4 separate regions of the Homo sapiens genome follow, and all the other regions are linked to region 1. Evidence: fine-mapped expression QTL. A gene starts in region 1. Each other region holds a variant in brackets. All regions are shown on one strand. Distances are between the middles of the regions.

Evidence for each region.
Region 2: its variant is fine-mapped to the expression of TMEM255A in whole blood (TOPMed, PIP above 0.99).
Region 3: its variant is fine-mapped to the expression of TMEM255A in whole blood (TOPMed, PIP 0.97).
Region 4: its variant is fine-mapped to the expression of TMEM255A in lung (TOPMed, PIP 0.99).

Annotation. Positions count from the first base shown.
Region 1 is chrX:120,310,004-120,312,690 of GRCh38, reverse strand. TMEM255A (transmembrane protein 255A) reads left to right here and starts at 1,230. Exons shown (of 9, transcript NM_001104544.3): 1 at 1,230-1,439. The coding sequence starts at 1,382.
Region 2 is chrX:120,346,489-120,349,175 of GRCh38, reverse strand. No RefSeq gene overlaps it. Among named protein-coding and RNA genes, the nearest start is that of ATP1B4, 14 kb to the left of the region's middle. The variant G/A (reference allele first, on the strand shown) is at 1,454.
Region 3 is chrX:120,334,807-120,337,493 of GRCh38, reverse strand. No RefSeq gene overlaps it. Among named protein-coding and RNA genes, the nearest start is that of TMEM255A, 25 kb to the right of the region's middle. The variant A/G (reference allele first, on the strand shown) is at 1,166.
Region 4 is chrX:120,270,007-120,272,693 of GRCh38, reverse strand. All of the region lies in intron 7 of TMEM255A (transmembrane protein 255A), which reads left to right. It also overlaps the pseudogene PFDN4P3. Among named protein-coding and RNA genes, the nearest start is that of ZBTB33, 21 kb to the right of the region's middle. The variant C/T (reference allele first, on the strand shown) is at 1,388.

The sequences.
Region 1 (2,687 bases):
GCAGTTGTTTTGAGAACATTCAAACCACCTTTTGGTCCAACCACAAGGTGCTTCAAGCCCAATATCCTAATGGGGTCCAAAAGGATAGGTTCGAGAAGGATTTGGCTGTCTTCCAAGATCAATGACATTCCCACCTCATCCCCAGTTTCCCTTAGTAATCCACAGTGGATCTGTCAGCCATGACTTTACTTTCACTCTTTCCAAAGCTACTTGCATTTTCATCTTGCTGCATCTTTTGGAGCTAATGAATTCCTTAGGTTTTCCATTTGCTATAGAGAATAATAGTTCTTTTCAGTCGCCATAGCAAGAACACTCACCTTGGAGTCCAACAGATCTAGGTTCTAGCTCTCACTTCTGCCACTTACTAGCTGAGTGGGCACAGGATATTTTCTTCCCTTCTCTGAGATTCAGTTTCCTCCTCTGCATAATGGGGTTATTGATAACTCCTCTTCCTCCCTTGCATGGCTGCTATGATGATAAAATGAGATCCTTGTTATAAAAGCACTTGAACAGTACAAACTGGGGTTCTGGTGCAGAGTTATACTTTAGCTGAATTTTCTAGCTAAAGATTGGGGGCTGTTGGTTCTAGAATTCTCAGGTCTGGTGAATAAGGCTGTGCTCCTTCTCTCCGTCTCTGCATAATTTTATACACTCTGGTCACATCACTTCCCAGCCTTCATCGTTCTAGACTAAAGAGTCTGCGTTTGTTTAATCTATCTTCATATGTCAGCCACCACCCTCCCCCCGCCCCACACACACCATCCCTTTGATTATAGAGTGGCCCTTCTCTGGATCATCTCCAGCTCCATTATGTCATTCTGGAAGCACTAAGACCAGACCTGCTCAAGTGTGTGTGTGTGTGTGTGTGTGTGTGTGTGTGTTCCTCAGCTCTGAACCTCTGACTCTGACCCCCTCCCCAGTTATAAATCCTAGAACAGGATAATTACCCAAGACCCTGTCCAACTATAGAGAAGGTTGGTTGGCTTCATACTGAAGCCTCCCCCTCTTTCTCTGCGCAGCCCTGGCCCCAAGGGGCTAAAACTGCTCCCTGTCTGGCTTGGAAGGCTGGGAGGTGGATAACTAGGATGGGGAGACTGAGGGGGAGGGAGGAGGGGGGGGGTCTTGCGCAAGCGCACGCGGCTGCACGGACCGCCAATGCTGCTGCCTCCCAGAGCAGAGGGAGGCAGAAGAGGAGGGAGGGAGAAGAGTGGAAGGGAGGGGGAGGCGGCACTTGGGCTGCAGCTCGCAACCAGAGGCAGTGTCTCTCAGCTCTCGGAAGGACCGAGAGAGGCAACCGCGGAGTAGGATGCTCTGCGGGGCGCCCAGAGCCGGGGGCGCTTGAAGCAGCTTCGGGGACTGGGGCAACCGGGCAGTTTTCACCATGCATCAGTCCCTGACTCAGCAGCGGTCCAGCGACATGTCCCTGCCCGATTCCATGGGTAAGTCTAGCGGCCCTTCCTTCGGGCGGCGGCAGCAGGGGTTGAGTGCCCTGGCCTCTGGACTGTGAACGCCCCAGCTGCCCCAAAAGCCGGAGAGCGGGAAACGGGGCATGGATGGGGTGGTCTTCGCGCCCCAGCGTCTGGGTGGTGGACCAGAGTCCCAGGGGAGCGGCCTGGCTGCAGCGGGAGCGACGTGCGGAGATCGGAGCGCCAAGCTTGCGTCGGAGTATCTCTGCCCCGGAGTGCGGGTGTGTGCCTGTTTGTGTGCGTGTGTCTACAGACTTGCAGTCGGTGGTAAATCCCAGCAATCTGAGGATCAAAACACTTCCCTGCAACCTGCGCCTTCGCTTTCCATTCGACACTCCCTCTTTGCAAAGTCCTGGTCACTTCTAAGAGCTCACGACTAACGACAATTAGAAGCAGGGTCCTCGCCCCCTCCCAACTCTCTTGAAGCTGCCCTGAAATTTAGAGATGCAGTTGGGTGGGGGCCTGACTTGCACCTCGCTGATTGGGGGGGGGGGGCGGGTTGCGCAACTCTGGGGGATGGGCGGGGGTGAGAAGAAAGGGGGGGATGAGGGGAGGGGAATTCCTGAGGAATCACTCAAGACAGCCCAGCCCTGCCCTCTGCAGCGGCGGGATCAACATTCTTTGAATTTGATTGTTACTCTGCTCCAAATGCACGGAATGTGCATGAGTGTGAAAAGGGAGTCAGGGGCAGGAGTGAGAGCGCGAGAAAGAAACATCCAGCGCGAGCCCGCGCATCTTCTGAAGTCGCGCTTTTCCTCGCAGGGCGGAATGGAGGGGGAGGGGCACCCTTCGACTCCTTTCCTTATAGAAACTGGGGGACAGCTACCTTCGGGCACCAACTTGGCTGCCCCTCGAAGCTGCTTTTTGGTAGTTACAAAAAAAAACAAACCCAGTCCCCCTCAGCTGTTAGGCACCTTCCCAAGCCCTGTGATTTCACTGGGCGGAGAAATTAATTTGGAGCCCTGGAGAGCGGGAGGGGATTGTAAAATCATGATCCCACCTAATCTTTTAAAATTCGCCTCGGATACACTTCAATCAAATCGAATTCTCTCTTTCCAACATACTTTACATTCTGCAAAATCCCTCTGTCCCGCAGTTCCTGCCATCAGTCTGCTCAGGTCTTCTCCGATGAATTTGCGGGAACATCTCGAGTGGAGGGGGCAGGGAGAAGATCGAACCCCCTATATAATCTCCCTACTGCCCGCAGAAGACTCAGTGTCA
Region 2 (2,687 bases), 36 kb before region 1:
CCAGCACCATTTATTAAATAGTGACTTGTTTCCCCATTGCTTGTTTTTGTCAGGTTTGTCAAAGATCAGATGGTTGTAGATATATGGCATTATTTCTGAGGACTCTGTTCTGTTCCATTGGTCTATATGTCTGTTTTGGTACCAGTACCATGCTGTTTTGGTTACTGTAGCCTTGTAGCATAGTTTGAAGTCAGGTAGCGTGATGCCTCCAGCTTTGTTCTTTGGGCTTAGGATTGACTTGGCAATGTGGGCTCTTTTTTGGCTCCATATGAACTTTAAAGTAGTTTTTTCCAATTCTGTGAAGAAAGTCATTGGTAGCTTGATGGGGATGGCATTGAATCTATAAATTACCTTGGGCAGTATGGCCATTTTCACGATATTGATTCTTCCTATCCATGAGCATGGAATGTTCTTCCATTTGTTTGTATCCTCTTTTATTTCATTGAGCAGTGATTTGTAGTTCTCCTTGAAGAGGTCCTTCACATCCCTTGTAAGTTGGATTCCTAGGTATTTTATTCTCTTTGAAGCAATTCTGAATGGGAGTTCACTCATGATTTGGCTCTCTGTTTGTCTGTTATTGTTGTATAAGAATGCCTGTGATTTTTGCACATTGATTTTGTATCCTGAGACTTTGCTGAAGTTGCTTATCAGTTTAAGGAGATTTTGGGCTGAGACGATGGGGTTTTCTAGATATATAATCATGTCATCTGCAAAGAGGGACAATTTGACTTCCTCTTTTCCTAATTGAATACCCTTTATTTCCTTCTCCTGCCTGATTGCCCTGGCCAGAACTTCCAACACTATGTTGCATAGGAGTGGTGAGAGAGGGCATCCCTGTCTTGTGCCAGTTTTCAAAGGGAATGCTTCCAGTTTTTGCCCATTCAGTGTGATATTGGCTGTGGGTTTGTCATAGACAGCTCTTATTATTTTGAGATACGTCCCATCAATACCTAATTTATTGAGAGTTTTTAGCATGAAGGGTTGTTGAATTTTGTCAAAGGCCTTTTCTGCATCTATTGAGATAATCATATGGTTTTTGTCTTTGGTTCTGTTTGTATGCTGGATTACATTTATTGATTTGTGCATGTTGAACCAGCCTTGCATCCCAGGGATGAAGCCCACTTGATCTTGGTGGATAAGCTTTTTGATGTGCTGCTGGATTTGGTTTGCCAGTATTTTATTGAGGATTTTTGCATAGATGTTCATCAGGGATATTGGTGTAAAATTCTCTATTTTTGTTGTGTCTCTGCCAGGCTTTGGTATCAGGATGATGCTGGCCTCATCAACTGAGTTAGGGAGGATTCCCTCTTTTTCTATTGATTGGAATAGTTTCAGAAGGAATGGTACCAGCTCCTCCTTGTACCTCTGGTAGATTTCGGCCATGAATCCATCTGGTCCTGGACTTTTTTTGGTTGGTAAGCTATTAATTATTGCCTCAATTTCAGAGTCTGTT[G/A]TTGGTCTATTCAGAGATTCAACTTCTTCCTGGTTTAGTCTTGGGAGGGTGTATGTGTCAAGGAATTTATCCATTTCTTCTAGATTTTCTAGTTCATTTGCGTAGAGGTGTTTATAGTATTCTCTGATGGTAGTTTGTATTTCTGAGGGATCGGTGGTGATATCCCCTTTATCATATTTTATTGCGTCTATTTGATTCTTCTCTCTTTTCTTCTTTATTAGTCTTGCTAGCGGTCTATCAATTTTGTTGATCTTTTCAAAAAACCAGCTCCTGGATTCATTGATTTTTTGAAGGGTTTTTTGTGTCTCTATCTCCTTCAGTTCTGCTCTGATCTTAGTTATTTCTTGCCTTCTGCTAGCTTTTGAATGTGTTTGCTCTTGCTTCTCTAGTTCTTTTAATTGTGCTGTTAGGGTGTCGATTTTAGATCTTTCCTGCTTTCTCTTGTGGACATTTAGTGCTATAAATTTCCCTTTACACACTGCTTTGAATGTGTCCCAGAGATTCTGGTATGTTGTGTCTTTGTTCTCATTGGTTTCAAAGAACATCTTTATTTCTGCCTTCATTTCATTATGTACCCAGTAGTCACTCAGGAGCAGGTTGTTCAGTTTCCATGTAGTTGTGTGGTTTTGAGTGAGTTTCTTAATCCTGAGTTCTAGTTTGATTGCATTGTGGTCTGAGAGACAGTTTGTTATAATTTCTGTTCTTTTACATTTGCTGAGGAGTGCTTTACTTCCAACTATGTGGTCAATTTTGGAATAAGTGTGGTGTGGTGCTGAGAAGAATGTATATTCTGTTGATTTGGGGTGGAGAGTTCTGTAGATGTCTATTAGGTCCACTTGGTGCAGAGCTGAGTTCAATTCCTGGATATCCCTGTTAACTTTCTGTCTCGTTGATCTGTCTCATGTTGACAGTGGGGTGTTAAAGTCTCCCATTATTATTGTGTGGGAGTCTAAGTCTCTTTGTAGGTCTCTGAGGACTTGCTTTATGAATCTGGGTGCTCCTGTATTGGGTGCATATATATTTAGGATAGTTAGCTCTTCTTGTTGAATTGATCCCTTTACCATTATGTAATGGCCTTCTTTGTCTCTTTTGATCTTTGTTGGTTTAAAGTCTGTTTTATCAAAGACTAGGATTGCAACCCCTGCTTTTCTTTTTTTGTTTTCCATTTGCTTGGTAGATCTTCCTCCATCCCTTTATTTTGAGCCTATGTGTGTCTCTGCACGTGAGATGGGTT
Region 3 (2,687 bases), 25 kb before region 1:
TTAGACTCTGGAAATTAACCAAAGTTTTGTAGGAAGCAGGAAGTGTTTGTTGAAGAAAAACAACTAAATTATGCAAAAACAACAAGCTCTACAATGTTTTAACTTGTTCTATGCCCATCCCCTTCTCTCCAGCTCTGCAGTAGCCTTGAAAACATATCACACAATAATGTGGAAAATCAGGAGCTTGTAAGTCACTAGAGGAGGAAGAATGGAGTTAGAGCTCCTTCAAAGCTCTATACTCATGTAATTGTCATTACTTGACCCATATGATAGTTCCCTGGAAGACTCTACTCACAAAGTTTGTCTTTATTTTACCTGACTCAGAGCTTGTTCAGTGTGAAAAGCCTTTCATTGAAGATATTTGTTGAAAACAATAAGTGGCAATTGTTTAACATCATGGCTGCCTGCTGTTGAAGTGGATAACAGTTAGGGCAAACATTGTAGACTGACCAAAAAGCTTAAAATAAAAAATGGGGAAATTAAAACTCCACAGGGGCTTTGACAAGCTCTGACAAATTCTCAAGAACCTAGGAGGGAATACATATGCATAGGATTTCCCATTCCCAGGGCTGTGAACATGTTCAGAAAAGACCTGAGAATGTCCAAAGCTGTCATTCCTGACTGACTTTGAGGCCCCACATGAGGAGGAGATGAAAGCCACGACAAAGTTTCAAATCAACTGGCCAAGTGCCAAATGCCTCCAAATAAACACAGAGCCCTTAATAAAGAGTGGAAGCCTTATTGGTTTTAGGCACTTCAGGAGATATCTGTCTCATCATTAGCTGACCACCAAGCTAATCAAGCAGAGACATCAGTGATCACACATGACAAAAATATAAACTTTACAGATCACTTCAGTAAAATTATTAAACAGCAACAGTAATAAAAACAAATGGCAACAAAAACATGCCCTGGAATTAAGAGAGAATCTTATTTCCAGAATTGCCACATTGCATTATTTAAAATATTCAGTTTTCAAAAAAAATTGAGAAATACAAAGAAAAATAAGAAAGTATGGACCATAATGGTGTGGGTGTGTCAGGGGAAGGTGGCAGTAGGAAAAGGCAGTCGATAAGAATTGTCCCTGAGAAAGCCCAGACATCACAATTACTACACAAAAAACTTTATGTGAGATGATTTAAATATGCTCAAATAAAGGAATCCA[A/G]ATCTACAGAACTAAAGGAAAGTATAATAATGATGTCTCAACAAATAGGGATTATCAATGAAGAAATAGAAATTATAAAAATAATGAAAAGGAAAGTGTGGAGTCAAAAAGTACAAAAACACAAATGAAAAAGTCACTAGAGGAATGTGACAGCAGAATTGAGCCAATCAAAGAAAGAATTAGTGAATTTAAAGATACGTTAATTGAGAGTATTGAATCTGAAGGGCAAAAAGAAAAAATAAAGAAAAATGCATAGAGACTCATAGAGCTGTTGAACATGACCAAGCATACCAACATAGACATGATAGGAGACCCAGAAAGAGAGGAGAGAGAGAATAGCAGAAAACGTATATTTGAAGAAATAATGACAGAAAGCTTTCTGAATTTCACTAAAAACAAGAATCTACACATTCAAAAAACAAAAAGAACTCCAAGTAGTATAAACTTAAAAAGATCCACATCTAGCCAGGCACGGTGACTCATGCCTGTAATCCCAGCACTTTGGGAGGCCAAGGTGGGCGGATCACGAGATCAGGAGATCAAGATCATCCTGGCTAACATGGTGAAACACCATCTCTACTAAAAAATACAAAAAATTAGCCGGGTGTGGTGGCAGGCACCTGTAGTCCCAGCTACTCGGGAGGCTGAGGCAGGAGAAGGGTGTGAACCCAGGAGGCAGAGCTTGCAATGAGCTGAGATCACACCTTTGCACTCCAGCCTGGGTGACAGAGCAAGACTGTCCAAAAAAAAAAAAAAAGTCCACATATAGACACGTTATAATCAAACTGTCAAATGACAATCTTGAAAGCAGCAAGAGAGAAGTGACTCATTAGATAGAAGGGTTACTCAACAAGATTAACAGCTAATTTCTCATCAGAAACCATGGACACCAGAAGGCAGTAAGATGACATACTAAAAGTGCTGAAATAAAAGTATTGTCAACTAAGAATTCTACAGCCAGCAAATCAACTCTTTAAAAATGAAAAAGAAATTAAGACATTCTCAGATAAACAAAAACTGAGAGTGTTGCTGGCAGACGTGCCTACAAGAAATCCTAAAGTGGGGGTTTTCTGGCCACAGTGAAAAAGCAGGCGATAGCAACTCGAATCTACATGAAAAAGCAAATAAACCAGTAAATTTAACTACATAGTAAATATAAAAGACAATATCAGTGTATTTTTTCTTTGTTACTCTTTGTTTTGATAATCACTTCTTTACCCCATTGGTGAAGGATGGATCTCCAACCTAGGGTTATGGAGATGGCTGAAGACACCTGACACTGAACAAATGAGATCAACAGCAGTTTTTTAGTCACATATACCCACGACCCAGGGGAGGAAGACACATGCCATGCAAGACCACAAGGCGCTTGTGTTTGGGACCAGAGTGAACAAGCAGGGTCTGTGGGAGGCAGACTTTGTAATATCAAGAGGATAAGGTGATCCTTGGTTCCCACAGAAGAATGTGATTGGCTCATTTGAATAATGACATGGGCTGGCAGGGACTGAGGCCTGCTACTCAG
Region 4 (2,687 bases), 40 kb after region 1:
AGCTCTGCATGACTGAGAAGGCCTCAGGAAACTTACAATCATGGCAGAAGGAGAAGCAGGCACATCTTACATGGCAACAGGTGAGAGTGCATGTGAAGGAAGCAAAGGGGGAAGAGCCCCTTATAAAAGCATCAGATCTCGTGAGAACTCATTCACTATCATCAGAACAGCAGCATGGAGGAACCACCCCCACGATTCAATCACCTCCCACCAGGTCTCTCCCTCAACACCTGGGGATTACAGGGATTACAGTTCAAGAGGAGACTTGGGTGGGGACACAAATCCAAACCGTATCAGTGCATCAAGTGCGTAAAAGCCAACCTCAGTCAATGGGACCTTCAGTTTCCCATACCCTAAGGACAAGGCCTGGGCTGCAGGGTCCTCATGCTCCCCAGAGGCACCCTCAGTACTGAGAGAGGTGCCCAGAGCCCTCCATGGATTCCGGCCTGGGGACCCCCTGCCTCAACAAGCCAGGTGACTAAGCAAATGCTCAGGGCCCTAGGTGCAGACAGGGCTCCCCACAGAGCAGCTGTAAGGGCTGGGGGCCTCAGTCTTGGGCCCCACACTGAGCTTCAGAGCTGGGCACCCCCAGCATCCCACACCCTCCACTCCCCTGCTATAGCTGAGACCTGGCCACTGACCAAGAATCCTGCCCATTTTTAAATCTGTTTTGTTGTTGTTGAGTTGTAAGAGTTCTTTATAAATAGCGGATACTAGAGCATTATCAAATATGTGATTTGCAAGTACTTCCTCCCATGCTGTGAGTTGTCTTTTCACTTTCTTGATAATGGCCTTTGAAGCACAAAAGTTTTTAATTTTGATGAAGTGTCATTTATCTATCTTTTCTTTTGTTGCTTGTGCTTTTAGTGTTATATCTAAGAATCTATTGCCAAGCTCAAGGTCATGATTTCCACATTTTTGCCTAAGAATTTTATAGTTTTAGCTGTTACATTTAGGGCTTTGAAACATTTTGATTTAATTTTTATATCTAGTATAAGTTAGGGGCTCAGTTTCATTCTTTTTCATGTGGATATCCAGTTTTCCCAGCACATCTGTTGAAGACACTGCTCTTTCCCTACTTTATGATCCTAGCAACCTTGTCAAAAATCAATTAACTGCAGATATATAGATTTGTTTCTGCGTTCTTAATTTCACTGTTATCTTTGATCTCCTGAGGAAAAAATGGGTTTGCTGATGGTCTGTCTTGATAGCGGCAATAATGGCCCCTAACCCTCTGCAAAGTGCTTTTGCACAGTTAATCTTCACTATTACTACTTTGTGAGGTAGGTATTACTGTCTCTGTTTAACAGGTGAGGAAACAGGCCAAGAGGGGTCAAGTGACTTGCCCAGAGCTGAGTAGCAGAACTGGGACTGGAGCCCAGATTTG[C/T]CAAATGCCAGAGCCTTTGCTCTTTCTATTTCATCCCAGCTGCCCCTGACTAACATTTGGGTAGCCCTTTCTGGTTCTATGAGTGTTTTAACATATATTACCTCCTTTGTTTAGTTGATTTAATTAAAAAATTAAAAGCAAGTTGTTTCCACCTGTTGGGAGCTTCTTTGACAGTACGGAAGGAGAGCAAGGGAAGTACCGAGCATTATCAAATGTGAATCCCGGGAACTCTATCAAGGACCAGGGCAGAAAAAAAATGAAAGCAAAGATCTGGGGAGAAGATCTTTGATTCATGAGATTAGAGAACCAGTGGGGGCACAGATAAGGATACCAAGGAGGAATCATTGCCTAGATCACTCTATTAAAATAAGACCATGGTGTAAAAAGTCCAGGAACATCATTCAGGTGAGCCTAAGTACAATCCTTGGCCTACATCCAAGTGTGGTTGGTGACTTGTGATGTGCCTCTCCCTGAGTAGAGTCCCCGGGGTCTGCAGGGAGGCCCGGGGGTGCTGGCTGATGAAAGCCGTTTGCAGAGAGTGAGGACAGGAGCCGAGGGCTGTGAGCTGGCAGTCTTCAATGGAATCAGCTAGGAACCACCATTTCCAAAGTTGTGGGATCCTGAAAGGAACCCTGACAAGAGGTGCTTGGTGAAAAAGATCTTAAAGAAATGTTTGAAGAAGTGCTTGTTGACCAAAGATATGAGGATTTGAGATGAATTTTTAAAAAGTGAATATATCTTTCCATTTTCTCCTAATTGGTATCGCTGGTTTAGAGTAAACTGGAGAGGGAAAAAAAGTAGCATTCTTTCCAAAGTCCACAATCATTGTCTCAGAATAGACTCAGTTTTGTCCAGGCAAGATTGCTTTCACCATTTGCTGTGCTACCTAGTAACCTTTTGTGTTACTGGAGCTCGGAATGCTACTGATCAATAATGGGGGGGCAGGGCGGGCGTCTCACAACGTAAGCCCCAGAATTCTAACAGAAATACACATACACACACACACACACAAACACACACTCCTATACGTGCACACAAATAGAAACAGGGCCCAAATTTATTGTAAAATCAGATTTATTGATTTAAAATATAACCAGACCACTATTTTGGCCCATCTCTTTTGCCCCATCCCTGACTAAGTCTTCACTCCATTCCCCATTTCCTCTTCTTCCTTCTCTTGCTGGCTTGTCCATTTTCTCTATATCCTCTACCCCTGACTGTCTTCTCTTCAGAGACTTTCCTATACCCATTTAATCTTACTCTCATGTTTCTTCTGTGCTGCCTTCTCTAAATAGTCAAC